Homo sapiens: one gene and its partners. The protein of the gene in region 4 interacts with the protein of the main gene of each other region in a biochemical or structural test. Each region holds a gene or a part of one and is shown on either strand. Other genes may lie near its edges. The genes, in order: RCBTB2, MARCHF5, HERC4, UBE2E3, RNF111, TTC3 and CUL4A.

Region 1 (4,470 bases), on a different chromosome or scaffold from region 4:
GTTGGGGTTGTATAGCAGTGGAAGTATTGAAAAGAGATCAGATTCTAGATATATTTTAAAGAGGTTGCTGATGGGATTTGTTGATAGATGGGATGAGAGGTGTGAGTTGAGAGAGAAGGATGGCTGCACTGAGGTACTTGGCCTGGGTAGCTGCCTTAATGGCACTGAGGTGAGGAAGATAGAGAACAACAGGCTTGCTCTGGACTTTGAAAGTCAAAGGAGTTTGAGCTTCCCATTAGATACCCAAGTGATAATTTTTTTTTTTTTGAGACAGAGTTTCACTCTTGTTGCCCAGGCTGGAGTGCAATGGCACGATCTCCGCTCACCACAACCTCCGCCTCCCGGTTTCAAGCGATTCTCCTGCCTCAGCCTCTCGAGTAGCTGGGATTACAGGCATGCACCACCACGCCTGGCTAATTTTGTATTTTTAGTAGAAACGAGGTTTCTCCGTGTTGGTCAGGCTGGTCTTGAACTCCCGACCTCAGGTGATCCGCCCATCTTGGCCTCCCAAAGTGCTGGGATTACAGGCGTGAGCCACTGCGCCCGGCCGCGAGTGGCAGTTTTTTATCGGCCCACCACTAACATTTGTGGGGCTGTAGCCAAGACTCCAAATGGAGACCTATGTTCCATATGTCTAAAAACTTAAAGTTATATGTCAAGCTAGTGAACTTCAGATAAAAATATGTCCAATCCTCCCACCTTGAAAAATGTAATTTCATTAAGAACTGAAAGGACAGGTTTCAATTTTAGTTGACATTTAGAGTTGCAGGACTTCTTGTGCCAGAACCCAATGGCACAGGCAGGACAGACCCCTCCTCCAGCAGAAGGGTGTGTGGGCACCCTAGCTTGCATTCCAAGCTCTATCCACCCCCAACCCAGGTTACCCTTTTGGGCCAGGGGGTCTGCACATTGGTGGTGGGGTCTAAGGGAGGAAATACCCACACATGTGGCCTCAAGGCCAATTATGCAGGCAGTCCCAGGTTCCCAGGTACCCAAAGTGTGGTCTAGAAGTGGGCATGTGGCTCCTTAGCCACCCTGTGCTGAAGGTGTGCGTGGAGGAGGCGCAGAGCTGGGGCTTGGGGCAGAGTCCTCTCTTAGGGCAGTGCAGCTTGCATGTGTGTCTGAAGCTTGGGGCCAAAAACAATGAAGCCATTCACAACTCAAGATTTCAGTGTCCTCCAGTGGGCTATCTGTCTTTCCTCTATAACTTTGATAATATTTGTTATTAAAAAAGCAAGTTTCCAACCAAAGTCTACCACATGTATAAGATTTATTAGCAGATAGACACAAAAACAATTAATATGGTAAAATTGATGAAATCCCTGCTCTTTATACTTCGTACACTCTATTAAGTACCTTGCATGAAAAGTTAGCTTGAGGTGGACATGACAGTGTTCTAGTAGCCGGATTCAGCTAGCCTTTTGATCCTGGCTACCACTCATTTCAGCAATGACAAACTAATTCTGACATTCTTTATGCTAATTACAAATCCTGTAATGAAGATTCAGAAAAACAAATAGGATCTTTCAGATGCTGATTGACTGCTTCAATTAGAGTACTTCCTATCATTCCTTGGGGTAGATTAAAATTAATTTACATATGTCACCTCACCCAGTCTACGTTGAATTACTTGAAAATAGGTGACAGGTAATATAACAGGACTCACCTGCATATATAGATGATATTTAAAACCCTGGGGCTGGGGTTTTGGGAAGTAAGTGAGGAAAGTGTCTGAGGATTTAACCCTGGGGCACTCAAACATTTGGAAGTCAGGAAAAATGATCCAGCCTAGAGAACTGAGGAGCAACTAATTAAAGAGAAGAAAAATGCAAGCAAGTGACAAAGTGTCCTAAGGAGAGCATTATCAACCATATCAAATTCTGTGTAAATGTCGAGTAAGAGGAAACCAGAGAATATTGCACCCTCAAAGCCACTGTGACTGCCACAGGTGTGACCACCAAGGGTGTGACTGCAGTAGTGGTGGGGATGGGGTTCTGCTTGTAATGGCTTGAGGTCAGAATGGGAGGTGGGAAAATGGAGACAGCAGATACAGATAGCTCTGTCTAGGAGTTTTGCTGTAGAGAGGAGCAGTGGGATAGGGTAACAGGAGGAAGACACGTGTCCATGAAAGGGTCTCCCCTCCCCTCCTCTCCCCTCTCCTCCTCTCCCCTCCCCTCCTCTCCCCTCCCCTCCTCTCCCCTCCCCTCTTCTCTTCTCCCCTCCCTTCCCCTCCCCTCCCTCTCCTGTCCTCTCTTCTTTTCTTCTCTTTTGTTTTCTTTTCTTCTTTTCTTTTCTTTCTTTTCACGGCGGGCACTCTTACAGCATGTGTGTGTGCTCCTGGGAGTGGCCCAGGAGAAGCTGACATTGAGATTGCAGGGGAAGGGGTCATTCAAGGCGCACATGCTTTTTTCCTAGGAAAAAAATATTAAAGCTATTTTCCCTGTGCTCCTGTTTTTCAACAGCTAATGATTTGTGTATCATGTTTGCTCAGCTTGGCTGCCATCCTGGGTAGAGCCCCACACTGAAGTGTAAGTGTCAGTCAGCATCAGTCTATGCAGTGCTTCACTGAGGATTATATCTAAAATAGTGTCAAAATCATCTCTGAGTGGCTGAGTGAGCAACTGTAAATCAGGATGCTTGAAATCACTCCCCCTAATAAACACCTCTTTCCGCCAGGACTGCTAGACTTGGCTACATTTTATAGAGAAAATCGTTTGAAAAAGCTCTGCCAACAAACTATCAAGCAAGGCATCTGCGAGGAGAATGCCATCGCTCTGCTCTCGGCTGCGGTGAAGTATGATGCACAGGTAAGGAAAGCTTGCTTCCAGCTGCCGGCCTCCTGGAGAAATGGAACCCAGGTGTCTGCCTCGTACCTTAAACTAAAAGAAAGTCTGGGTAGAGGAAATATTTAATATTTTTTAAAAAATGAAGTAACAAGAGTACTAGACAACGTATAAGCAAGTATTTATATAATGTTGGGATGGACATCAAAGGCAGAAGCCATAAAGGATTTATAGCTCTGATTTAAAAAGATAAGAAACTTTTATCCACTTAAAAATACCATAGAGAAACTTACAAAGTAATGAGACACTGGGAAAAATACTTGCAACATATAATGAAGTCTGTTTACCAGAGTGAAAAACAAAAAGACAATAGGAACAGTTTGGTTGAAAGAAATGGACCAAAGAACAAATGGCTCTATAAATAGACAAAAAACATAAATGAAAACAAGGTATAACTTTTCACCTGTCAAAGCAGGAATATATTTTTAGAGATAATGTATAGGATCAGAATAATGGTGTTCTCCTAAACTGCTGATGAGAGTACAAATTGGTATGGAGAACAATTTGGTATAATATGTATTAAGCACCTTAAATTAAAGACATAATTCTTCAAGGAATTCACTCACAAGTATTTATCTTGAGGAATTAATCATGGATTTGCACAAAGACTTAGCTTCAAAGGTGTTTACTTCAGCAGTTTATAATTTTGAAAAATCAGAAAAAGGTTAGTGTGAATAGTGGAGGCTTGTTTATAAAATGTTAATATCAAGAAATTATGCAGCTATTCAAGATATATCACTAAGTGAAAAACTTATCCTATTTTTATTTTTTGAAAAAGTATAAATAGCTGAATAAAAAACTAAAATTCATTATCTACATAGAAAAAAAGACTGAAAACTATGCTTAGTGGTTATCATTGAATGGTGGGATTGTGGGTGATTTTTATTTTCTTCTCTTTGCTTATTTTTTTTTAACTTTTACAGTGACCATGTATTGTTATGATAATAAAGAAAGGAAAGAAAACCAATCTTAGAACCAAATCTTTAGGAAACAGGCTGTAACATCTTCGAGTCAGTTTCCTTTTGGTATAAGGATATCCTCTCCTTTGGTCAAAGAAAACAGAGACATTTTAGTAGATGAAAGGTTATAACTTTTTTTCTGTTTACATAAATAATACTATGCTTATTAAAGAAAATTTGTAAAAGACAAAAAGTGAGGAAGGTAATGACTCATCAACCAGAGAACATTAGCACTTTCATATAACAGCTTCTGAGTTTTTGTTTTATGTCACATTATATATTTGTAAATACTTGAAACCTAGATTTTTTTTCACTTAACATTAAAAAAAAAGTACTACCTCAAAACAATGACATTTAACAGCACAGTGAATGTTTTATATCAAGGCAATAACATATTGGGCACTTACAACACAGAATGTTTCATGGTCAGACAAAATCCATGCACTTTTCCTAGTCCATTCTTGAGCATCACAGTGATGAGCCACGGTGATGGAGGGCCATCTCAGATGTCAAGATGGTGGCACGTGGTGTTTGCATCTGAATCAGGCTTCATTTTTAATACTTTTTTATATTCTCTATTTATGTGAATTATTTGTCTGGCTACCTTCCAGCTCTCTGTTTTCTAGAAAGTAAGCTCTTTGAGGCATGGCAGGGACTTTGTTTTGCTC
Region 2 (4,470 bases), on a different chromosome or scaffold from region 4:
ATGGCTAAAGGACCTTCTTGGTTTATCTGACTTCATGTTCTTCTGTCAATCCATCCTTCCAAATGAATCCTCTTAAAATAGTACCTTCAAAATCTTACTCCCCAGCTTAACATCTCCATTGCCTTAAGTAGTAGTCTTCAAGAGCAGCATCTAGATTGGTTAAGTGTTTCCTAAGTAACTCTGTAGTAGTGAACACACTTAGGTTTGTAGATGATATAATTTGCTTTTCTTTAATATAAATTAGAATTTACATGAACAAAAAAGGAATGCTTGGAATTTTACCTAATATTCCAGGAACTGCATATGTATCTATGCCAGGGTCAAACCTTTATGGCTTGCTCCATTAATGGTCATGGTGAGACAGAGTATTATGAGACTTCCTTATAAAATGATGATGACATCCCAAAAATATGGATACAGTTAAATGAATCACAAACAGTGAAACATATCTGACATGAGTGTAGTGAATAAAGTTTGAGAACCACTGACTTGAACTTTAGCATGATTTGATACACAGGGTCCTCTGTAATCGTACTTCGTTCTGCTTTAAGGCTGTTGGGCTGTCTCCTCCAACCCATCCTTATGTTGTGTAGTTTTTCACCTCTGTCCTTTGGCTTACGTCACCTTCCCAACCTAATACCTGCCCTTCTAGTCTTCTGTGTACTTATCCAAATCTAAACCCTCCTTCCAGGCTTAGCTAGCTTTCCTCCATAGAACTTACAGGCAACTCCTGCCTGCTGTGATTCCTTCTTCCCCCACATTCATGACATTTTTATTCCTCAAATGGCAGCTAGTCCTGCCCTGATGAAGTGACATTTCTTATATAGATTATCTGTTTAACTTTTCTTGTTTTTAGGCCTTATTTTTCCTGTTAGGAGGTAATTTCCTTGAAAGCAGAGTCCATTTTATGCTTCTGTATTCCCTGTTACAGCATCTACATAGAAACTAACACATTAAAGGGTTTCATAAATCTTTGTGGTTTTGTTTTTTGTTTTTTTGTTTGAGACAGAGTTTCGCTCTTGTTGTCCAGGCTGGAGTACGGTGGCGTGATCTCAGCTCACCGCAACCTCCGCTTTCCGGGTTCAAGCGATTCTCCTGCCTCAGCCTCCCGAGTAGCTGGGATTACAGGCATGTGCCACCACGCCCAGCTAATTTTGTCTTTTTAGTAGAGATGGGGTTTCACCATGTTGGTCAGGCTGGTCTGGAACTCCTGACCTTAGATGATCTGCCTGCCTCTGCTTCCCAAAGTGCTGGGATTACAGGTGTGAGCCACTGCACCCGGCAGTCTTTATGTTTTTTATGTGACCACTTCAAATAATGAGTATTAGTACATCACCTGAGGAGGGAGGATCAGGATGATTTACTAAGACTGAGAAAGACATAGAAACTTAGAGCAGATTATACATTATTTAATGTACAAATACATTATATAGATATATATATTTTGCAAATGAGATTGAGTTATTTTCTTAAGACTTTATTGACCATAAGAAGTGAGATGGCTCTTTTTTAAGAAAGATTTTTAGGCTGGCACAATGTTAAAAGAATTTTGATAATTAATGGGGCACTTGTTAAAACACAAATAAATTGAAAACTCTGATCCCCAGCATCAAGGGATATAGTCCAAGACAAGACGTTCATAAATGAAACCACTGGAGAACAGTTACAGGTTAGATAGATAAATGTGATAAGAGGGCAGAAGACTATATAAACAATATTTTAATTCAGTAAAAGTGAAAGATAATTTGATTTGAAATTATGAGAAAAGTCTTGAGCTAACCCTTAAAGGAAATAATTTGAATTGGTAGAATGAAATAAGCAAGGAAGCAAAAACTATAGTACACATATGTGTTACCATTTAGAAATAACCTTCACATGTAATGTCTCACTTGAAAAGATTTTTTTTTTTTAGCCCAGAAATGAGACTAGCTATGACAGTAGGTGGATAGTGTTGTGTGATTTAAGAGTATTGGGAAGATGACTTTTACCTTCCTGAGCACATATGATAGAGAATGTGCCCCTCTACACCATCAGTAGTATTTAGGGTTTGCCTTCTAACACTTGATTGTTTTTCTCTGATTCCTTAACAACCCTGCAGTACAAGTAAACCAAATCAAGGAATCAGATCACTGTTATTTTCCCATTTATTTTCTTTCCTTCTCCATGGACCTGTCATAGAATCAATACTTTTTAGTTGTGGGGAACTTGAATAGGACCTTCCTCTTGCATTTTTATTGAAAAGACAACACAATAATTTTTTTTTCTCGGCACTGTATTGAACACCTAGCACTGATGCATTTAACCCTTGCAACAATTTTATGACATAGATTATTGTTATAAATTATTCCTAGTTTACTGGTTTAGAGAGTTTACAGGTCCAGTGCCACACAGCAGAGAAGCATTAGGACTCCTGTCCCTTGGCTCCTTAAGTGAAGCCTGGTCCCAGAGGCAGCTGGAACATTTTATCCTGGAACAGTGGAACCTTAATATGTTTAGCCTAGTTCCCATTTTTGCCTCTAGTGCAAAGACAGCCCCCATTAGCATTGCCCATTCTTAATTACAGTACTTACTTATCCTTGATTCTGAGTTAAAAAAAAAAAAACCCTGTTATTTCATCACTGTTTCATCCTCTTGTTAGGATTCTGGCCAGGTGCTGTAGCTCATGCCTGTAATCCCAGCACGTTGGGAAGCTGAGGCAGGCAGAACCCTTGAGGCCAGGAGTTGGAGACCAGCCTGGTCAACATGATGAAACCCCATCTCTACCAAAAATACAAAGAAAAAATTAGGCATAGTGGCTGTATTCCCAGCTACTCCGGATGCTGAGGCGTGAGAATCGCTTGAACCTGGGAGGCAGAGGTTGTAGTGAGCCAAGATTGCACTCCAGCCTGGGCGACAGAGCAAGACTCTGTCTCTAATTAATTAATGTAGAATTCTAATAATAATTTAAAAGCTCAGACCTTAATTAAAACTGTTAGCCTTTCAGCAGCAATGAACTGCAGGCCTACCTAGATATGAAAATCTAGCTTTTAGCCCTTCTGCAGGAAAAACAAAAAATTATTTTTCTCTAAACCTGCAATTCTATAGGTCTTTTGTTTTTCTCTTTTTTTTTTTTCTTTTTTTTTTTTTTGAGACAGAGTCTCATTCTGTTACCCAGGCTGGAATGCAGTGGCGCAGTCACGGCTCACTGCATCCTCGAACTCCCTGGGCTCAGGTGATCCTCCCACCTCAGCCTCCTGCACAGCTGGGACTACATACACATGCCACCACGCCCTGCTAATTTTTGTATTTTTTGTAGAGACAGGGTTTCACCATGTTGCCCAGTCTCAAACTCCTAGACTCAAGTTACCCACCTACCTCAGCCTCCCAAAGTGCTTGGATTACAGGCGTGAGCCACTGTGCCCAGCCAGGCCTTTATTTTATACATAGATAACAAATTCTTAGACATTCTATATAATTCCTGGAGCTTACCCCAAAATCGAAGTCTTAAAAATAATGTTTTTAAATCTTGGGACAAGAAAGCAGAATGTATGTGATTACACACAGGTTCACTGACTTTGTATTGGCCAAAATTAAATCAGGCCTATTGCTTAATCACCTTTCATTTATTGCCCCTGAGTATGACTGTTTTAGCAAGTGGTGTACTGCAGGTGTTATACTACCTTATTTCTTCACAGTGTATATATTTGCACACTTGTTTGGTTTGATTTTCTCTCACTTTCAAAAGACATCTGTTTAACCTGCCATTTTAGCCCCAGCACAAAATCATTATTCAGTGAATGAATGAATGCATGTGTGAATGATGAGCCTCATCCCACTTCTAACTTGCTTGAGCATGGGGCATCTCTCTTCACTTTAGTTGTAACAAGTGAAATACTGGGCCTTTGCTCATTCTTTGCCCTATTTCCTTCTTTTTTTTTTTTTTTTTTTTTTTGAGATGGAGTTTCACTCTTGTTGCTCAGGCTGGTGCAATCTCGGCTCACTGCAACCTCCACCTCTTGGGTTCAAGCGATTCTCCTGCTTCAGCCTCCCGAGTAGTTGGGATTACAGATGACCACCACCACGCCTGGCTTGTATTTTTAATAGAAACGGGGTTCCACCATGTTGGTCAGGCTGGTCTCAAACTCCTGACCTCAGGTGATCCGCCTGCCTCAGCCTCCCAAAGTGCTAGGATTACAATTGTGAGTCACAGTGCCCAACCCCTACTTCCTTTTTGTTTCCTTATTCTTAAACACCTTATAAGGTTTTTACTGCTACCCATGAGAAACAAACTTCCTCTTGTTCGCTCTAGTCTATACCTGAATATTCACTCTTCTTTATATTTCTAAACCCAAAAAAAGGACACATAACCCGACAAAGGATTTTTTCAAATATTCTGAATTTATTTGCTAACACTTTGAGAATATTTAATCATATTTAGTTATAATGTTAGAGTGATCATTATATTGAAATTTTTAATGATATAAAAATAGA
Region 3 (3,500 bases), on a different chromosome or scaffold from region 4:
AGAGTATAACAATTTTAAATTATATCAAAACTATATTATCTGGCTGTCTATCTATATTAGGGTATACTCTTTGTACAAAAAGAACTGAAAAACAATTTAAAACATTTTAGTAATCATAATATTGGTGGTAATGTTGGTACTGTTAGGCAGTAAATGTGTAAGATAAGTCTGGAACATTCTGTCATAGTAAGTACACAAGGTAGCAAGGAAGGTACCAAAAAGTATATAGGTTGTTTCAAAAGGACTTGGGCACCAACCTTAAGAGCTCTCCTTGAACAAAGATGGGACAATATGAGCATCAATGAAGACAATAACTGCAGTGAATTGAAAAACATCAAGTATGTTTAAACCTATGAATACCTAATGATACTTGAAAGCAAAACACAAAAAATGAATTATTACCAGTGGACTATGCTAATGAACCAATTCATTCTTTTGAAAAATTGGTAACTAAATAGAATCCTTTCCTATGAATTGCACTACTAAGGAATCAGAAAACGTGAGGAAATTTCTCTATACAGAAGTATCCAAGCTAATAAATGAAAAAGAAATATTAGAGTAGCACACCATTTTGCAACCCCTGATGAATTAGAGTCTAGGCACTAAGCTGCTAACATTACACAAGACAGCCAACCTCCAGGCAGAATGATTAAATATTACATTGAGGTTTTTACAACCAATAGCTATTCTATCTAAATTTCTTTCAAGTCAGGAGTTCTACTAAACTGATCCATCCTTTTCACTTATGATCACTAAATTGGGTCAGCAAACTTTCTATAAAGAACCAGATGGCAAATATTTTGGGGTTTCCTGGACATAAGGTCACTGTTGTAATTACTTAAACTCTGCCGCTGCTATTGTAGCATGAAAGTAGCCTTGGACAATAGGTAAAAGAGTGGGTGTGACTTTTTTTTTCTTTGAGATTAATGGGCTATAGTCTGCTGACCTGCTCTAAATGACAAGGTAGATAAATCAATGATCCCTAATGATAAATTAATTTTTCCCAACAGAAAAGTTAATCTGGTGATTATTATTCAATCCTCAAATTGAAATCAGCAGAAGGAATAGTCAACATTATTTTCTGGCTAACCATCTCTTAATTTATTTTGTTAATTTAAAATGTGTGGTAAGCATCAAATGTATTTTGACAACTCCAAGTCCAAAGTTTATAATTTCTCAAATTGTAATAAAGCAGATCTTATATGTTAGGGATCCAGTAGTAATTCCTTATTTACTGAATTAACTTGATACATACAGGTATAAATACATGGGTATATACACAGAAGTAATTTAGATGGTTGGACATTTTACCTTATCAGAAAACCAAATGAGCCTGGAATCTTCATAATACCTAAACATGCCGTATTTAGGATCCAATAATTCCCTCATGATGAGCAAGAAAAATTCTTTGCGCACCCCTCCTGCATCCACAGCATCTTCTCCAACAAATATAACCTAAAATAGCACAATGCAAACACCAAATAGACTGTAAAGAAATGAAAGTACATTCTGGAGACCCTAGAACATGTTATTTATTACTAATACTCTACAATTAATAGTTTAAAATAAATATAATTTTATTTATTAAGTTTAAAAGATTCACTAAAAACAAATAGGAAAATTTTAAACATAGCTTCTGAATAAAAGTCCCAATTATACCACAGAAAATGTCAAATTACCTTGAGTGGCTTCTTGTAATCTATGTTCTTTGTTTTCCTAAGGACTTCCATTGCATCTCCTACAATATTTTCTCTACGCACCACTAGAATTAAGCAGGGATTCACAGATTCAATCACTGGGAGAAAAAGAGAGGAGACATTCTGCCTGTGGGCCTGATCAATAGCCATCTGGAAAACAAAAGATTAACATTTTAACAGCAATGCTACAATAAAGCTACTGTGACTGAAACAAGCTAACCTCTACCTATTAGTTACAGGTATTCTATAATTCCTATGCTACTGAATTAACATAGCACCTAACAGTATCCCGTACAGCATAAAACTTAATAAACTGAGCATAAAGAGTACCCTTTTGAATGTTTTTATACTAATGTATAATGTATAACTCATAACACCATTAGAGTAAGCCAGTACAGAACGGTAGTAATACTGATAAATCTGAGCATTGGTTTTTCTAAAAAACATTCACTGGAGGGGAGGGTAAAGAGGGAGGAGCAAAAACAAACCTTTAAAGAGTATAAGGAACAGGCTGGGCGCAGTGGCTCACGCCTGTAATCCCAGCACTTCGGGAGGCCAATGAGGGCAGATTACTTGAGGTCAGGAGTTCAAGACCAGCCTGGCCAACATGGTGAAATCCTGTCTCTACTAAAAATGCAAAATTAGCAGGGCGTGGTGGTGTGTGCCTGTAATCCCAGCTACTCAGGAGGCTGAGGCAGGAGAATCACTTGAACCTGGAAGGCAGAGGTTCCAGTGAGCTGAGACTGTACCACTGCACTACAGCCTGGGCGACAAGAGCGAAACTCCGTCTCAAAAATAAAAAATAAAAAACAAAGAATAAGGAATGATCTGGCTAAGGAAGCATTACACAAATTCACTTAACTAAGTGATCATGGTATGTGCTCACGAACCAAGGATTTGACTTTTACCATTTAAAACTTTTGTTCTTTTATTATGGTTCTCCCTGAGTTCTTGTTCTAAAATGGAATATCCCATGGTAAAATCACCAAGTTATTAACTTATCGTTTTAACAAAGACCTCCAAAAAATTGGCTTACTAGCTGTTAGTATAGAACACTACAAAAATATTTAGAATACCAAATGCATTTATTTGAACAGAATAAAAATGGTTACCAAGATTTGAAGGTTTTTAATTTTTTAAAATATTTTTAGACTATTAAATATTCAAGCTTTCTTTTCATCCTTTCCTTAATCCTTAGTTGGTATAGTCAGATATTCTATACCAGAGGAAGCAGCTCAAAATCTTTTTTATTTACAGGATCAAATGATAAAGCAAACTTACTGTAACCCTTTAAAGTCATAATATGAATTAGTTTAAAAAATCCTCTCTATAAATGAAAGAACTCTCAACATAAAATGGATGGGAAAGGGTGATAGGAAGGGGAAAAGAAAGAGGAATAGGAGATAATGGTGACCAACCCCAGGAACATGTTTAATACCTTATTATTGAAACTTTCTTCAAGGAAATTTCACATCTTCTTCCTAACGAGATCAAATGCTTCCTACTTTTAACATCTCTCACCTCTAGTGACTTCCATCTCTTACCAAGCATATAAAAAGGGGACATATAATGAAACAAGATTTTGAAACAAACCAACATCTTATCAAGTAAACTAGTAAAACGGTTTATAAAGATTGAATATTTCTGTAATGAAAGAGGCTTATACAATTTTTAATATATAAAATGATTATAGGTTAAGTTATTCCATTTTCACTGCAACCTTTTTTTATAAATGTTCTCATAAGAATATACATATCACATGCAGCAGTCTTCTTTATAGCTACCCAAAGTACTTTGTGTACC
Region 4 (4,291 bases):
CCAGTCAAATAATTTAGTATCATCTATGATATATTACCCTTCATTTTTTTTTAGTGTTTTAATTGGTAATACAGCATTCATTTTCCTTCTGTTTTTAATGTGACTGTGCTTAGGTTACTTTCCGCACCAGAATCTATCACTGCAACATCAACAGTCAGGGAGTCATCTGTCTGGACATCCTTAAAGACAACTGGAGTCCCGCTTTGACTATTTCAAAGGTTTTGCTGTCTATTTGTTCCCTTTTGACAGACTGCAACCCTGGTAAGCAAATCTTTATTAACATGTACAATAAGACTACAAAAACGAGTGCTTTTTTTTTTTTTTTTTTTTTTTTTTTAGTTAGCTTTAAATGTAGATTGAGAGGTAAATGTTATTCATAGAAAGATCCCCATAAAACAGTTTGTGAGGAAATTACCAATGCCATTTGAAGTAGACTAGGCCAAAAGTTTCTCAATACCTTCATTTAATTTGTTAATGGCATACCACTCTATAATTATTTTGTCACCATCATTAATGGAATCTCTACTTTTAAAAGTATTTAGGTGCACAGACCACTTCTTTTTTTTTTTTTTTTTTTTTTTTGAGACGGAGTCTCGCTCTGTCGCCCAGGCCGGACTGCGGACTGCAGTGGCGCAATCTCGGCTCACTGCAAGCTCCGCTTCCCGGGTTCACGCCATTCTCCTGCCTCAGCCTCCCGAGTAGCTGGGACTACAGGCGCCCGCCACCGCGCCCGGCTAATTTTTTTGTATTTTTAGTAGAGACGGGGTTTCACCTTGTTAGCCAGGATGGTCTCGATCTCTTGACCTCATGATCCACCCGCCTCGGCCTCCCAAAGTGCTGGGATTACAGGCGTGAGCCACCGCGCCCGGCCGACCACTTCTAACAAGAGTAAAGCAATGTGTCTGAAACCAGTGCCTCCTTTTCCTGCTCCTTCCATGCTGCTGTATGCTTTTAGGCAACTACTTTAATAATAGAAGGCTTCTTGTTCTCCCTTCCTTTTTTAATTAATTAGTTATATAAAGTGTAGTAGTAATGGATATTAAAATGATAGCCAATGAGAATTGAACTAGATTATGATTATATAACCTCAGATAAAATCATTTGTGTATAATTCATAACTTTAAAAAATGCCTGCCACATGTGAACTTCAGAAACTTGGGTAGCTGACTTGATAAAGTGATGTTTAGACCTGAAATTTCACACATTTTGTTTCGTTATGTGACCTTTTTTTTTTTTTTAAGTTGACTTACTTCTAAATATTTGATAAGTCACTAAAGACTGTTACTGTTGTTACCTTATGCTCGGCAGAGATACATATGCAATAGATAGTGACAGATGGATATTCATTGTGGTATCCTTTATTAGAGTATTGGAAACAACCTCAATGCCCATTAATAGATGTAACGTTTAAAAAGAATGTGACAACTCTATATGAACTAATAGGGAAATATCTTCAAGATATATTAAGTATAAAAGGCACTGGAAAAAAATACATATACACAACATAATATTCTAAATGCTTGTCAGTGCATGTAAGAACTCTGGGAAGTAATGTTGTAAATGGGTAACAATTGTTTGCCAGGGAAAGAAACTTCTGAGCAGTTGGAGTCAGGAAGGAAGATAGTTTTTTTTTACTGGCTATGGTTTGGTACAATTCAAATATTGTACCATATGTACATATTTTTTTGTTTTTAAACATCAAAATAAAAATTTATATCAGGTTCACTCTCTAGTTCAGAATTCTACTTAAAACAAAATGGCAAGTAAGTTTTCAAGTGTAAATATTGATAGTGATTAGAGTCATATCAGGCACAGAATGAAGGAAGCATTTTATTTGAAATAGCATGGTATTGTAAGACTGGGGTTTTATTTTAAAATTAACCATTTTTGAACTATTCATAAGCAGAAATATAACCACCTAGTATACTTCCATTTTGAATGAAAGGCCAAAATTACAAAATAGTTTTTGTATATTAAAGACATATCTTTTATAAAAGTCAAATCTAACTTTTTATATATAGCTCAAAATTCATTTTTTTTTTTATGAAGGGGACTTTCCTAACTGGAATATTAAAATATACATATGATCATGTTACTTTAAACTTTTTCTTTTGAAAATTTAGCTATTATATATGAAGATACTGCTGAAAAATAAGCATTTCATTTTAATAGAATATTAGAACTATACCTTGAAGAAGATACCACAAAATAGCTTTTAATGTTCTTTCTGCTTTTCCAGCGGATCCTCTGGTTGGAAGCATAGCCACTCAGTATTTGACCAACAGAGCAGAACACGACAGGATAGCCAGACAGTGGACCAAGAGATACGCAACATAATTCACATAATTTGTATGCAGTGTGAAGGAGCAGAAGGCATCTTCTCACTGTGCTGCAAATCTTTATAGCCTTTACAATACGGACTTCTGTGTATATGTTATACTGATTCTACTCTGCTTTTATCCTTTGGAGCCTGGGAGACTCCCCAAAAAGGTAAATGCTATCAAGAGTAGAACTTTGTAGCTGTAGATTAGTTATGTTTAAAACGCCTACTTGCAAGTCTTGCTTCTTTGGGATATCAAAATGTATTTTGTGATGTACTAAGGATACTGGTCCTGAAGTCTACCAAATATTATAGTGCATTTTAGCCTAATTCATTATCTGTATGAAGTTATAAAAGTAGCTGTAGATGGCTAGGAATTATGTCATTTGTATTAAACCCAGATCTATTTCTGAGTATGTGGTTCATGCTGTTGTGAAAAATGTTTTACCTTTTACCTTTGTCAGTTTGTAATGAGAGGATTTCCTTTTACCCTTTGTAGCTCAGAGAGCACCTGATGTATCATCTCAAACACAATAAACATGCTCCTGAAGGCATAGTTTCCTGTCGTAATATTTTAAGTCAGTCTTGTTAGAAAGTGTGTCTGAGATGATTGTTGATGAAGTAAAAATGTGGCTATGAAGATTACTAAAGACTAGCACAAATAAACCCATTCTTAAATTGAAAACATTTAAAATCCTATTAAATGCATAGAGTTTTTTTCCTTTGTTATTGAAAGAATGACCTTAAATAATCAAAAGTGGATTTTGACCCATTGGTCTCAAACACATAAAGTTGTACTTCGGTAATATGATGTTTAAGCCAAAAAGAATATGAAATCCTGGCTCGCTCACTCAGGAATCTGGTAATGTCTTATGGAACATGTTGCTTCCAAATTGATGATTTTTGTTCAGCACTGGGCAATATTGTCAGATGGTAACTGTGATGTGGTAGCTAGTCTGTGATGCACTTTTTACTTCTAATCCTGGTCTTGAATGTTCATGTTGTGTATTACCATTCTTACTATGGCAAGTGGCCAGCAAATACAGCCAGAGGCAGAGATGAACACAGAAATCTTTGTCTGCCTTGAAGGTAGACTAGAACTGTGTTAGTGTACAGATGTGATATTATTTCTCAATTGGTAAAATACCAAATTGTAAGGTTTTTAGAAGGTTAAATTTCTTCTTTCTAGTTGTAATTCTGAAGTGTTAGATTTCTTGAAAGTTAGAATTTCTTTGCAATATTTAGATTTGCTAAACAGAGTATAATTGTGTGTGGTGGTGGTGTTTTGTTTTGTTTTGTTTCCCTGTGACTAAGGTAATCATCTCTGGTCATGTAACCAAGGTTGTGGTATATGGGGCAGGTGTCTTCTCCAGTCCTCAATATGGAAATGAAGTATCATCTTAAAAATGTATAGAGTGAAAATATTAACATAAAAAATGCTTCCGGATAAAGTAAAACGTGTAGTTGTGTGTGTCACTAGAATAGCAGACTCCTGTTTGTCAGTAGAAGTCTTATATCAGAGTAAAATTAAAATTACACTTACATATCTGTTTTTCACTTAAACTCCCCACCCCCAACATTATTACAGAGGAGCACTATACAAAGGTACTATTTTGAAGAATTCAGACTTTACCTCTGTGAAAACCTAACTAATAATTTATAATGGAGTCCAAGTGAATGTGATGCAAGTGGAGACCGTTTAAGTTGTAAGGTTTTTTATCAACCGTAGTTTTTCCTCCACTGCCAAAATTGTACATTCTACACCCTAGAGTAATAAACTTCTCTCTTGGTGCTAGAAAAACTTAAATCATACTGAATGTTGGGATGTTTGGGGATGCTATGATTAGACTTCCTTTAGTTACCATGAGCCTAATTACCACCGCCAAACTATTTTGCTTACTTGTTGGCTGTGTCCATACTGGTGTGGGATAAAGTGGAGGGAATTGGTTACTTAAAATATTTGCAGCTCTT
Region 5 (4,470 bases), on a different chromosome or scaffold from region 4:
TTTTCATAATTGAGTACATTATTAGGTTGTGTACTCCTAGCAGAAATCTCTTGAGAAATTTTAGTACGAGCTAATGCACTTGAGGGTCCATAGTGATACTTTTGAGGGAAAATACCTTTCTTGCTAATGAAATTTTGGCTATTTAGAATATGTAACAAAGCATATTGTCTGTATTATCTAGATATGAGTAGTAGTAGTTATAGGTAGTAGAAGAGAATATTCTTTCAGGCATTTGATTTAATATACTTAAGCTGGCACATAGTAAAATAAATAAGAGAATTAAAAATTTAATACACACCCCAAGTGATATCCCTGTAGTACAGGTATTATTTTTTTCACTTAATTATATTAAAAAGATAGTTAAATGGTAGACATATTTCTAGTTGATTTTCTGATAATCTCTAAAACTTTTGTAGAAAAATGCCAAGTCATCTATGGCTTTTTTTTTTTCTTTTTTCTTTTGTGTCGGAATTTTGCTCTTGTCTCCCAGGCTGGAGTGCAATGGCGCGATCTCGGCTCACCGCAACCGCTGCCTTGCGGATTCAAGCGATTCTCCTGCCTCAGCCTCCCGAGTAGCTGGGATTACAGGCATGTGCCACCACGCCTGGCTAACTTTGCATTTTTGGTGGAGACGGGTTTTTTCCATGTTGGTCAGGCTGGTCTCGAACTCCCAACCTCAGGTGATCTGCCTGCCTTAGCCGCCCAAAGTGCTGGGATTACAGGCGTGAGCCACTGTGCCCGGCCGGCTTTTTTTTTTTCTTTTAAAATCTTATTTCTTTAGAGTCATGTAAGCAATCATTACATTTTTATTTAAAGTTGAAACAAGTATTCATATTTATAATTGGTGGTGAAGCATCATACCAATAATAGTGTATCACAGTTTAGAAGTAGAGTTCCTCAGAGTTGTATGGATAGTCTTAATGGGTTTTTCCTCCTTTTGCTCACATAAACTTGTTTATGATGTGAATTACTAAATCCCAACCCTAATTTTTAGTTTTGAAAGTTAGTATTTTTTTTTAGCTATCGTATTTTCTTAGTGCAAGGTTTACTAATAGTGGTGTATTCTACACTAGTATCAGGAGTAATTAGCATGCAGTCATCATGACATAGCAATGAAATGATTGGATCGATCTACACAAAGAGGGACTAGTATTATGGTTTCAGTATTGAAACAGTGTGTAACAGCAAGCCATTTATAATGTCACCAAGGAGATATATCTTGTACGCATTTGCCTCCTTTGTAAATTAGATCAGCCAATAATTTTTACAAAAATAAAAGACTAGAATATGGTTTTATCAAACAGCAAATAATTTAGAATATTATCTGTTATATTTGCTGCTTTTTAAGTTAAATGCAATACTTGTGTTTATTTCCTTTTGAACTTTCCTCTTCTAAGTTCAAAATACAGCCTGATACAATTACAGGGATGGATTTTAGAAAAAAAAATTTAGAACATGATACAATACAGCGATGGATTTTAGAAAAAAAAATAGTATGAATTACTCCCTGGGTGGGAACCTCTTAGTTATATGGGATATTAATTTTGCATTTAATGACTGCATGATATGTTAACTCAGAGAAGAGTTAACTGGTGTACAAACACACACCACAGCATACACCAAACCACCCCCCCTTGCTCTCCTCTACCCTTGTCTCATTGGACAGACTAAACTGATCAAAAATCAGAGCAGATTTAACCATAAAGAGTTGATTGCATTGTTTTGGCTTTGGGACATGAAATGATGGAAAAGAAATTGGGTTTAGTTAATTGTGCTGTGAATTGCTTCTTTGTAAATTAATGTATGGCTGCATGTTCTCAGAATTTGTCTGGTTTTTGGCAAGTTTTCATTGCTTCTCATGATCTCCATTATCAACATGAGGACTTAGTAATTACGGATGAGGAGTCTAATTTTTAAATCTTCAGCCCATAAAGACTCCAAGATCTCCTCCTCTGAAATCCACCAGAACATAACTCTGACATGGGTTTCTGGAAGAACCCCAGCTGTTTCCAACATACATCATGAGACTTCTGTTGCTGATGGAGTCTCTGATGCCTAGAAATCTTGATACTTTTCCTCTTGACTTTTTCACTTTTTTTAAACCTCTTGACTTTCTGGCAGGAGTTTTATTGAGATTTTATTTCACTGGGTTTTTAGTATATTCACAGAGTTGAATAGCTGGCACCACAATCAGTTGTAGAACATTTTCAGTTCACTGAAAATAAAAGAAATTCTATACCTTTTTTTCTTTTTTTTTTTGGGAGACAGAGTCTTGCTCTGTTGCCCAGGCTGGAGTGCAATGGCGCAATCTCGGCTCACTGCAACCTATGTCTCCTGGGTTCAAGCGATTCTGCTGCGTCAGCCTCCTGAGTAGCTGGGATTACAGGTGCCTGCCACCATGCCTGGCTAATTTTTGTATTTTTAGTAAGACAGGGTTTCTTTTCACCATGTTGGTCAGGCTGGTCTCAAACTCCTAACCTCAGGTGATCCACCCGCTTCAGCCTCCCAAAGTGGTGGGATTACAGGCGTGAGCCACTGCACCTGGCCCACCTTTTTTTTTTTTTTTCCCCACTCTTGTTGTCCAAGCTGGAGTGCAGTGGTGTGATCTCAGCTCACTACAACCTCTGCCTCCCTGGTTCAAGCAATTCTCCTGCCTCAGCCTCCTGAGTAGCTGGGATTACAGGTGCACGCCACCATGCCCGGATAATTTTTTGTATTTTTAGTAGAGATGGGGTTTCACCATGTTGGCCAGGCTGGCCTCGAACTCCTGACCTCAGGTGATCTGCCCGCCTCGGCCTCCCAAAGTGTAGGGTTTGGCCACCGCGCCTGGCCAGAAACTCCATGCTTTTCGGCCATCATAGTTGAATCCTCCGATGATCCCCAGCCCTAGGTAACCACATTCTATCTATGTAGATTTGCCTATTCCAGACATTCCATATAAAGGGAATCTTACATTATGTTATCTTTTTGACTGGTTTCTTTTACTTAGCATATTGTTTATCCATGTTGTAGCTTGAGTCAGTATGGTAGTCTGCGCCCCTGTCCAAGGGGAAACCATTCTGAGTCCCCCAGTGGATGCCTGAAACCATATAGTGTTTTTTTTTTCATATACCTACATGCCTATGATAAAGTTTAATTTATAAATTAGGCAGAATAAGAGACTAACAACAACAATAAAGTAGCAAAATTCTAACAACATACTGTGATAAAACTTATGTGAATGTGGTCTCTCTCTCATAGTGTGAGTAACTGAAGCTGTGGAAAGTTAAACTGGATAGTGAGGGACTACCGTACTTCATTTCTTTCTATTGCTGAGTAATAATCTTTTGTATGGATTTATTTATTCATCAGTTGATTGGCATTTGTGTTCCCACTTTTTTGGCTGTTATGACTAATGTTGCTGTTTATAAGTTTTTTTATGAATATGTGTTTTCATTTCTCTTGGGTACATACCTAGGAGTGGAAATGCTAGGTCACATAGCAATTTTGTGTTTAATTTTTTTTTTTTTCTTGAGATAGAGTCTTGCTCTGTTGCTCAAGCTGGACTGTAGCGGTGCAGTCCCAGCTCACTGTAACCTCTGCCTCCCAGGTTCAAGCGATTCTCATGCTTCAGCCTCCCAAGTAGCTGGGATTACAGTCAGTGCGCCACTATCCTGGCTAATTTTTGTATTTTTAGTAGAGATGGGGTTTCACCATGTTGGCCAGGCTGATCTCGAACTCCTGGCCTCCAGTGATCCGCCCGCCTTGGCCTCCCAAAGTGGTGGGATTACAGACATGAGCCACCGCGCCCAGCTTGTATTTAATTTTTGAGGATCTGCTAGACCGCTTCCCAAAGTAGCTTGTATCATTTTACATTTCCATCAGCAATATATGAGGGTTCCAATGTTTTTTTTTTATGCATCCTCTCTAACACTTGTTATTACCTGTGTTCTTTATTACAGCCATCCTGTTTGGCCCCATTCAACTCTTAGATCACATGTACCTGTGTTTTATCATTGTGACTTCTGTGTTCTTGCCTTTAATTAAAGTGATCCTTGTCTGACTGGCTGCCTTCTGTAATTTGCTCATTGCCATGCTCATGTTCACTCATCTTTGTATTCCTGGTTTATCACTGATCCTGCTGAACTACAGATAGCGCGTGATGGCTGATCTTGGATACAGCACTGCCTGTGCTTGTGAATAAGAATAAAAGAAGATAGTGGTTTTGATAGCTTTCTGTAGGAATAGGTCATTCTATGCCTTAATTATTGTCATTTGTTCTGATAGTAAAGTTATATACTATAGTAACATGGGAGACCTGTAAGATTATATATTTCTGTAACCCATTTGTAGAGAGGGAAAATACTTGCTTACTAAACAGCTGTTGTACTCGCTTTTTAGGAACTGGTTTCAAAATGTATTTTATGGGCAAAACAAATCTGTGGTGTCAGAAGTTACAATAGTGGTTAACAGTTTGGTGGGCTGTAGTAA
Region 6 (4,470 bases), on a different chromosome or scaffold from region 4:
TTAAAAAAAGTTGCATTAATTATAACTTGTTAAATGACTGAAAGACAAATGAAGATTGTATTATAACTGCTATAAATTAACTTAAAGTGAGACTGAGACTGGTAAATGGTATTAATAAAAGGTTTTTTTTAAGCCAGGTGTGGTGGCTCACGCCTGTAATCCCAGCACTTTGGGAGGCCAAGGCAGGCAGATCACTTGAGGTCAGGAGTTCGAGATCAGCCTGATCAACATGGAAAAACCCCGTCCCTAATAAAAATACAAAATTAGCCAGGCGTCATGGCGCATGGCTGTAATCCCAGCTACTCAGGAGGCTGAGGCAGGAGAATTGCTTGAACCCAAGAAGTGGAGGTTGCAGTGAGCTGAGATCACGCCATTGCGCTCCAGCCTGGGCAACAAGAGCGAAACTCCATCTAAACAAAAGTTTTTTTTAAATGTAAGATGTTAGCACTCTAAAAAGATGTAGTAGTTTGAGTGTGGACTCTAAAACCAGGCTGCATGACTTAAATCCCAGCTCTGCTATTTATAAGCTTTGTGTTCTTGGGCAAGTCGCTCTGCACTGTGCCTCAGAGTTTCCTTATCTGTACATTGGACAGAATATAATAGCACTTACCTCCTAGGCAGGATAAGTGGATTGAAAGAGTTTATGTATGTAAACCCCCAAAACAATGTCTGATACATAAGAATTAATCTCAGTAAAGGCTATGCTATGGTCTGAATGTTTGTGTTTCTGCAAAACTCATATGTTGAAACCTAATCACCAATGTGATGGTGTTAGGATGTGGATTCTTTGGGAGGTAATTAGGCTCTACCCCCATGAATGGACTTATTGCCCTTATAAAAGAGGCCCCAGAGAGTTGCCTTGTCCCTTCCACCATGAGAAAACACAGCAAAAAGGCACCATCTATGAACCAGAAAGCAGGCCCTCACCAAACACTGAATCTGCCAGTACCTTGATCTTGGGACTTCCCAGCCTCCAGAACTGTGAGAAATAAATTTCTGTGTGTAAGCCTCCCAGTTTATGGTATATTGTTATAGCAGCCCAAACTGACTAAGACAGGCTATTATTTTAACTTAAAACAATTACCCTACTTAAAGAATCCATGAAATGACCACGTAATTTTTAACTGCTCTGATAGCTCCTTTAAGAAATGAGAAAAAAAAAACCATGTTGTACATTTTTGGTTCATAAAGGAGTATGATATAAAAAGGTTACTGCTACTCACTAGTTTTATTTCTTAAATATTTGTTTATTGAAAACTCAGTTTTGACAACCAGATGGCATTGAAAATCACTAATATATAAGGTGAAAACATAACATCATATACAGCTCCCAAAACAGCTTCCTCTCTTACAGGCAAAAATGCCTAGTAAGTATTAACAGGACATTCTCTTTATTGACTATTTTAAAGAATAATTTCTAGACATTTTTCTATGATTTTCCCACAGAGCCTTGCACATGGTAGGTTCTCAATATGTACTTAGTGAATGAATGTCACCAGTGTCGTGACTTTAACACAGTTTGAATGAATTCTTAATGCCTTCTAGCCACACTATATAAATGTAATCAAGATGGAATTACATCAGGTTGTCAGATGCACAGCTTTAGAAAGGAAAGTTAGGGAAATAAAACACAAGTTTATATATATTAAATTAACACAACTTATTAAGTAAAGACATTTGAGTTAAAATGAAGCAAAAATTTAAAAATTATACTTACCTATGGTCTTCACTTGAAGTGATGATCTCATTATTTGAAGTTACTGAAGTTGTTCCAGACCCAACTAACATAGGCTGGTTTAAAAGACAGAAAAATGACAATGATTTTCTACCTTAAAATTCCATTAAAGAGAAAAATCATTAAAATTGATGAATACTTATATAAACACACATACAAATTGCTGATATATAAGATCTATCCAAATTTTCTTATAAACAGGAACACATAGTAATAAAAGTTTCAACAGCCAAAAATAAGCTCAAATTAACATTTAGGATAGTTTCCAATGCTCCAAAAAAATTTAAATGTTACTCAGTTTAAACTCCCATTTTATCTAAACTAAATACATAGTCAAAGATAAAAATAAAAGTTGTATTGGAACTCCTTAACTGTTCTCATCCTTTGAAGATTTGCTACTCTCTCTCACTCCATCCCCCTTTCTGCTCCCCACATACACACAAGAGCCATGAAGAACCCACCAAAGACTTAAAAATTGTGCCCTACTTCTGGCACAGTGGCTCACGCCTGTAAGGCCAAAGTAGGCAGATCGCTTGAACGCAGGAGTTCTAGAACAGCCTGGGCAATATAGCAAAACCCCATCTCTCCAAAAAATACAAAAAATTAGCTGGGCATGGTGGCATGCGCCTGTCATTCCGGCTACTCGGGAGGCTGAGGTGGGAAGATCACTTGAGCCTGGGAGTTTGAGGCTGCAGTGAGCCGTCACTGTACCACTGCTCTCCAGCCTGGGTGAGAGAAGGAGACCCTGTCTCAAAAATAAAAATAAAAATGCCCTACTTATCTAATGGGCTTGGAGGAGAGCCTTTGGTGAGAGGAAGGAAGGGATTCTATCAATCCTGGGACTGTCATAATGATTAGTATTCATCATTTTTAGTTTAAATATGTTATCTATTTTTTGAGACTTATTTATTTTTTGGGACATTATGACAATTTTTTTTTTTTACTCAGAAATACCTAGAAAAATAAAAAAGACAATAAAGAATACGAGTGTCAAGACTTGCTATTATATAATATGAACCTGGAATTTCTTCAAAATGTAGAAGACTGCCAAAACATCTTTAAGTCCTAGAAAGTCTTTCTCTACAAATGTTTCAAAATATCCCAAGAATTGCTCAATTCTAATGTATATGTCCAACTAACTATTTTGGAGAGTTTAGACAAGAATTAATACAGAAAATACTCCATACCTTTGAATCCTTTGGCTTCTTTTTCTTGCTTTTGTTTTTCACCTTGGTTGAACTAAACTAAAAAATGGGGGGAAAAATCAGTGAACACTCAAATAACAGCATTATGAAGCTCAACATAAAGAAACCATATGAGTTTTTACAGACTAGCCATAAGTTAAATGTACATAAAATGTTTAACAAAAATAACACTACAGTGTATCAGCCCAAGTGCTACGATTTATAATAGAAAACAAACAAAATTTAATAATACTAATGTATACTAAAATTAAGTTGTTCCAACATTTTTATCTTATTTTCCACAGGGTTGGACTGTTATTTCAAGTAATTAATCAGACTTTTAAGTAATTCCAGTTAGATGCCATAATAGTAAATTTATTATTAATATATTTCTTTTACTAAGCCAAACTAGACATTCTGCACCTGACCAGACACTGGGGCACAAACAGTGAATAAAGAAGCCTTCAGCTCCTTATGGAGTATTTCAGCTGTGTTTCCCTGCTTAGCTGGGCAATATTTGATGGAGCAGATTAAGACAAAATTTCATATAGATAGATGATTTGCTCCTGAAAATCAGTAAACAGGCATTTTTCTCTTTGAAAACTGCCACAATGTTGTGCTTTTCTCTATTTACTCACTTTCCTAAACTGAAGAATTTCTGAAGAATGAATAAAAGGCAACTGCAAACTACTAAGGAAGACAACTCTGGAACTGTTTTAACTTAAACGTAATTTAGAGCCACTCAAAACAAAGTCCCTTTGTTTTCCTTCTAGAGCAGAACATTAGAAGTTTAGTTATTAAAGACAACTTTTCATTTTTATGCCAGGAGATGAAGAACTCTTCCTTTCTTAATTAGAATATTAATGTTTATCAGCTCTGAAACTTTATAGAAATTGTCTAATTTAAGCCTCATAGTTTGCTGATTATTGCTCCAATTCCGAGAGGAAAACTGGCAGTGACTTTCTAATGAATAATAGTACGTACTACCCAGACGTCCTTTTAATGTGGTTCTTGAATGCTGGCTGTGATGTCAATAAACACTGGCCTGGGTCCCCTTCTCATCCTTGGTTTAACATCAGATTAGAACGTAAGATTCAAGTGATCCAAGTAACTTACCGGTGCTTCACCACTATCTTGTTTCCTTAACACAGTACAGCGGCTGTCTGTAGGAATATACAGATGGTTTTGTGAGAAAACTAAATATTTACATTTCCATATAGTACACTAAAGCCTTAAAATAACTCCTCATACTACTGGCATAGGCCATGTTCTATTCCTTATTTGGCTTTGACACAAGTGTAGTTTAGAAACCAAGGGCAAAATGGCTGACTAAACGGGAAACCAACTACAAAGAACCATAAAACTTCAATCTGATTCAGCATAATGTTGAGTGCCTTCTAGGTACCATCTATGCTAGTCCTGGGAATAGAGATGCACAAGACAGTCCCTACCATTGATGAACTCCTGTTCTACTGCCAGAAAGACAAACAGACAAACTCCTGTAACCCAGCGTGCTAAGGACCACGTGAAACACAAGGCAACAAAGGCTCA
Region 7 (4,470 bases), on a different chromosome or scaffold from region 4:
ACACATATTCAAAACCATATCATTGGCCTAAGAGAGAAATTCCCTTAACCAGAGTTTTAAAAAACATTTATACTATGTTATTTTTCTAGAAGTTTTTACATTTAAATCTTTCTTTTCATGTTGCAGAAATTATTTTAGTATCTGAAAACAGTCTAACTGCCCCCATCCTTTCCAAAACCAAATTTAAAATATCATCCTTGAACAAGTTATTTGAATTATCACCTTATTATGTATCAAATTCATATAGGTCAGTTTCTCAATTCTCTTCTATAAATTCTGTGTCTATTTCATAGCCAGCCATTTTTTTTGTTTTGTTTTGTTTTGTTTTTTGAGACAGTGTCGCCCAGGCTGGAGTGCAGTGGTGTGATCATAGCTCACTGCAGCCTCAACCTCTTGGGCTCAAGCGATCCTCCCACCTCAGCCCCAGGCATATGCCACCACGCCCAGCTAAATTTTTGTATTTTTTGTAGAGATGAGGCCTTGCCATGTTACCCAGGCTGGTCTTGAACTCCTGGGCTCAAGCAGTCTTCCTACCTTGACCCCCCAAAGTGCTGGGATTACAGCCGTGAGCCACCGTGCCCGGCACCAGGTTCTTTTAATTAATGTAGCTATTCCTATAACTTTATTCTTCCAATGAACTTGACAATAATTGTATCACGCCTTTGCTCCCCCAAATAAGAACATTGACATTTTTAATCCATATTGCATTAATTTACAGAGCTTTTATCTTTATCATATTAAATCTTGTGATTCATACATATGTGTATATATGTAAATACATACAAATCTTTTTCTCAGAGCTTTCTAGTTTTCTTCTGTAAGTCTTGCATATTTCTTGCTAGTCATAAATTTTCATTCATTCAACAAATACTTATTGAGCATCTGTGGTGGCCCAGGTCCTCTGTGAAGCACTGAGAATTCATCCATTAACAATAAAGAATAAGTCCTTGTTTCTAGGAGTGTTCAGTCTTTTCCAGCAGAGAGGTAGCAGAGGATCACACACATTGACTAACTTGTAAGAGTGGAGGAAAATGTTAGGATAGAGAAGTGCAGGAGAGTCTAATTAAATACTGTCGTCAGCCAACGCTTTCCTGAAGAAGTGACTAGCTTTGCTCAGGAACTGAAAGAAGGCCTCTGGCTGCAGCATCGTTGCCAAAAGGGGAAGCTGAGCCAGACAGGCCTGATCAGGGAGCCACAGCTGGACCCTCTGAAGATGGCTCAGATCCATGAAGCATTTGGAAAACCACTAGAGTTTTAAGCAAGACAGGCTAATGAAATGCTGATATCTTATAAAGGGGACCTTTTTTCTTTACATTTCTGACGGTTTTTATCAGAATGTATGTATTAATGCTATTTGTCTTTGTATATTTATTTTATTTCCAGCCACTTTACAAAACTCTTTAGCTTTGAAAGTTTTTCTGTTGATTTTCTTGGATTTTCCAGCTCATCTACAAATAATGATCGTTTTGTCTGCACCTTTTCAATATACCTCTTTAGTCTGTTCCTGTATTGCATAGTTAGAACCTCTAAAGTAATGTTTTTAAGGAATAGCAGTGCAGCTGAGCTTCCTAATTTTATCTCTAGTTCAGAGGATGTTAACTTTTTGGGGGTCATGGATCCTGTTGAAAATGTGATGAAAGCTTGGAGTCTCTCCCATCCTGAAGCATACTTGCCTCATATGTATGCACAGACCTTCCCCCAGCCCTCATTTCAACTGCAGATCCCCATCAGGTTCCTGTTGGACTAAGGTTAAGTTGTCTCTAGTATTTGCTGTTTGTTTCTGATAACCATGTTTTATCATGTTCAGATGCTTTTTTATTCATCCTTGTATGCTAATGTTTGTTTTAAATCAAAAAATCAATTTTATCATGCCTTTTCAGCATCTATCAAGATGGTCATGTAATCTAACCTTTCAACTGCTACAGTGCTCTCACTTATATTCACAGATTTCCTAATGTTGATCAACACTTAACATTTCTGGAATATATCCTGATGGTCATTATGTTTTGTTTACTGTGCTGCTAGTTTTAATCTACATCACACATAGAGTTGTTGCAGCTTTCTTATAAGGAAAATAACTTTTAAAAATATTTTTTAAGTTTTGGTTTTGGAGTTTTGCTATTCTGGGAAGGTACCTTTTACTACAACAAGTAAACATGCATAATAAAGTAGGATTCATCCAATGTCTGACCTTTCTTTGCATCAAAAGAACATTTCCGGCCAGGCACGGTGGCTCACGCCTGTAATCCCAGCACTTTGGGAGGCCGAGCCAGGTGGATCACGAGGTCAGGAGATCGAGACCAGCCTGGCTAACATGGTGAAACCCTGTCTCTACTAAAAATACAAAAATGAGCCGGGCATGGTGGGGGGGCACCGTAGTCCCAGCTACTTGAGAGGCTGAGACAGGAGAATGGCGTGAACCCGGGGGGCGGAGCTTGTAGTGAGCCGAGATCGCGCCACTGCACTCCAGCCTGGGTGACAGAGTGAGACTCCGTCTCAAAAAAAAAAAAAAAACCATTTCCCATCAAATTCGGTAACATCAGGTCATTAATATTGAAATATAGGCCAGGTGTGGTAGCTCACACCTGTAATCCCAGCACTTTGGGAGGCCAAGGTGGGCGGATCATCTGAGGTCAGGAGTTCAAAACCAGCCTGGCCAACATAGTGAAACCCTGCCTGTACAAAAATACAAAAAGTAGCCGGGCATGACAGCAGGTGCCTGTGATCCCAGCTACTCGGGAGGCTGAGGCAAGAGAATCGCTTGATCCTGGGAGGCGGAGGTTGCAGTGAGCCGAGATCACACCATTGCACTCTAGCCCAGGCAACTGAGTGAGACTCCATCGCAAAAAATAAAAAGAAAATACAGTTTTACACTTAACTTTTTTTTTCTTTTTTATACAGGTTGAGGAACAGGTTAGCACCACTGAGAGAGTGTTTCAGGATAGACAATATCAGATTGATGCTGCTATCGTCAGAATAATGAAGATGAGAAAGACTCTTGGTCATAATCTTCTAGTTTCTGAATTATATAATCAGCTGAAATTTCCAGTAAAGGTAAATGTAACATTAGCATAATTAAATTTGTAGTATTTGCTAAACAATTGACAAAGCATGTTTAATTCTATGTTCAGTCATATCATTTGACCTGCATTATTCATGGTGCTTTGTGTATACACTGAATGTAGAAAAACTGGCAAATGTGAAGCTCTTTATTCCAGGTGTTGCTCATTGCCACTGCAGAAATGATAGAGCCCTAAAACTCTCCTTCCCAGGGATGGTGCGCGCTTGTTCATATTTTCAGGAAGGGAAGAGGTAGATGGGACATGGAAAGCTGAACACTTTTCTCATAGTAGTAGCGGTCAAGGTTACATCACAAGATTTTAAGGAAATGATAACAATAACTAACTTACTCAGCGTTTACAGCCTACACCGCGTTTTCCACCACGGTAATAGTCTACTGTTGCTGTTGCTTATGAAAGTCAGCCCAGGCCTGTCAACCCGCGTTGTTTTCAGAACTGAGATTTACTGTCCTGCCACGTGTGGGATGCAGGATAAGCCGGGAAAGTATTATGAAACGTTTTTTACATGTATTTATCAACCCAGGAAATACTGAACTCTGATGACGCCTGGCCTCTCAGGGACAGGACCGGCCACACGTGCTTTGGAGGGAAAGTCCCCAGATTCCATGTTGTGCAGTTTGAGCCTCCCATTCCATCAAGGGAATAAAGTTGAGATGCACTAAATAGTCGAACACTTAAGAGTCTGGTGGAAGTGCCACTGTCCATCAGCCCACATTTGCCCCCTTCCCTGCAGAGGTGAGGTGCCGTCCTCAGGGCCCTGGGAAGCTCCAAAAGCACCATCAGGTTCACTGCCCCTTCCTCCCACCAGCTGGAGCAAGTCTCCTGTTGCCACTGCAAACAATCAGGCCCAGCGCGAAGCAGAGGTGAGCAAGAGTGGAGTGTGGCAGACCAGGGCACCTGCTCTGCTCTCGGGTAGAGAGTGGCAGACCAGGGCGCCCACTCTGCTCTCAGGGGTAGAGTGTGGCAGACCAGGGCGCCCGCTCTGCTCTCGGGTAGTTGGGTTTTTTTTTTCTTTGAGATGGAGTCTTGCTGTCCCCCAGGATGGAGTGCAGTGGCACGATCTCGGCTCACTGTAACCTCTGCCTCTCGGGTTCAAGCAGTTCTCCTGCCTCAGCCTCCTGAGTAGCTGGGCTTACAGGCACGCGCCACCACACCCAGCTAATTTTTGTATTTTTAGTAGAGACAGGGTTTTACCGTGTGGTCAGGCTGGTCTCAAACTCCTGACCTCGTGATCCGCCTGCCTCAACCTCCCAAAGTGCTGGGATTACAGGCGTGAGCCACCGCGCCCAGCCTCAGCCACATCTTGTAAAATGTGTGGCTTATCACTGAATAGAAGGTGAAGTTTGTTTGGAAAATAGAGGGTCTCCCTTGTATAGGGAGAGCCTTGCAC

What was found.
Region 1: the proteins of UBE2E3 (region 4) and RCBTB2 form a complex in vitro, tested with the Homo sapiens proteins (one study listed by BioGRID).
Region 2: the proteins of UBE2E3 (region 4) and MARCHF5 form a complex in vitro, tested with the Homo sapiens proteins (one study listed by BioGRID).
Region 3: the proteins of UBE2E3 (region 4) and HERC4 form a complex in vitro, tested with the Homo sapiens proteins (one study listed by BioGRID).
Region 5: the proteins of UBE2E3 (region 4) and RNF111 form a complex in vitro, tested with the Homo sapiens proteins (one study listed by BioGRID).
Region 6: the proteins of UBE2E3 (region 4) and TTC3 form a complex in vitro, tested with the Homo sapiens proteins (one study listed by BioGRID).
Region 7: the proteins of UBE2E3 (region 4) and CUL4A form a complex in vitro, tested with the Homo sapiens proteins (one study listed by BioGRID).

The regions. Positions count from the first base shown.
Region 1 is NC_000013.11:48,494,528-48,498,997, reverse strand, and holds part of RCBTB2 (RCC1 and BTB domain-containing protein 2), read left to right. Parts: intron 1-2,676; coding exon 2,677-2,807; intron 2,808-4,470.
Region 2 is NC_000010.11:92,342,585-92,347,054, forward strand, and holds part of MARCHF5 (E3 ubiquitin-protein ligase MARCHF5), read left to right. Parts: intron 1-4,470. UniProt on the Homo sapiens protein: Mitochondrial E3 ubiquitin-protein ligase that plays a crucial role in the control of mitochondrial morphology by acting as a positive regulator of mitochondrial fission and as an important regulator of immune response.
Region 3 is NC_000010.11:67,953,284-67,956,783, forward strand, and holds part of HERC4 (probable E3 ubiquitin-protein ligase HERC4), read right to left. Parts: intron 1,848-3,500; coding exon 1,680-1,847; intron 1,456-1,679; coding exon 1,312-1,455; intron 1-1,311. UniProt on the Homo sapiens protein: Probable E3 ubiquitin-protein ligase involved in either protein trafficking or in the distribution of cellular structures. Required for spermatozoon maturation and fertility, and for the removal of the cytoplasmic droplet of the spermatozoon.
Region 4 is NC_000002.12:181,060,552-181,064,842, forward strand, and holds the end of UBE2E3 (ubiquitin-conjugating enzyme E2 E3), read left to right. Parts: intron 1-113; coding exon 114-261; intron 262-2,239; coding exon 2,240-2,337; 3' UTR 2,338-2,874; downstream 2,875-4,291. UniProt on the Homo sapiens protein: Accepts ubiquitin from the E1 complex and catalyzes its covalent attachment to other proteins. In vitro catalyzes 'Lys-11'- and 'Lys-48'-, as well as 'Lys-63'-linked polyubiquitination.
Region 5 is NC_000015.10:59,025,286-59,029,755, forward strand, and holds part of RNF111 (E3 ubiquitin-protein ligase Arkadia), read left to right. Parts: intron 1-4,470. UniProt on the Homo sapiens protein: E3 ubiquitin-protein ligase. Required for mesoderm patterning during embryonic development. Acts as an enhancer of the transcriptional responses of the SMAD2/SMAD3 effectors, which are activated downstream of BMP.
Region 6 is NC_000021.9:37,159,311-37,163,780, reverse strand, and holds part of TTC3 (E3 ubiquitin-protein ligase TTC3), read right to left. Parts: intron 4,083-4,470; coding exon 4,036-4,082; intron 2,980-4,035; coding exon 2,923-2,979; intron 1,792-2,922; coding exon 1,718-1,791; intron 1-1,717. UniProt on the Homo sapiens protein: E3 ubiquitin-protein ligase which catalyzes the formation of 'Lys-48'-polyubiquitin chains. Mediates the ubiquitination and subsequent degradation of phosphorylated Akt (AKT1, AKT2 and AKT3) in the nucleus.
Region 7 is NC_000013.11:113,257,706-113,262,175, forward strand, and holds part of CUL4A (cullin-4A), read left to right. Parts: intron 1-2,901; coding exon 2,902-3,054; intron 3,055-4,470. UniProt on the Homo sapiens protein: Core component of multiple cullin-RING-based E3 ubiquitin-protein ligase complexes which mediate the ubiquitination of target proteins. As a scaffold protein may contribute to catalysis through positioning of the substrate and the ubiquitin-conjugating enzyme.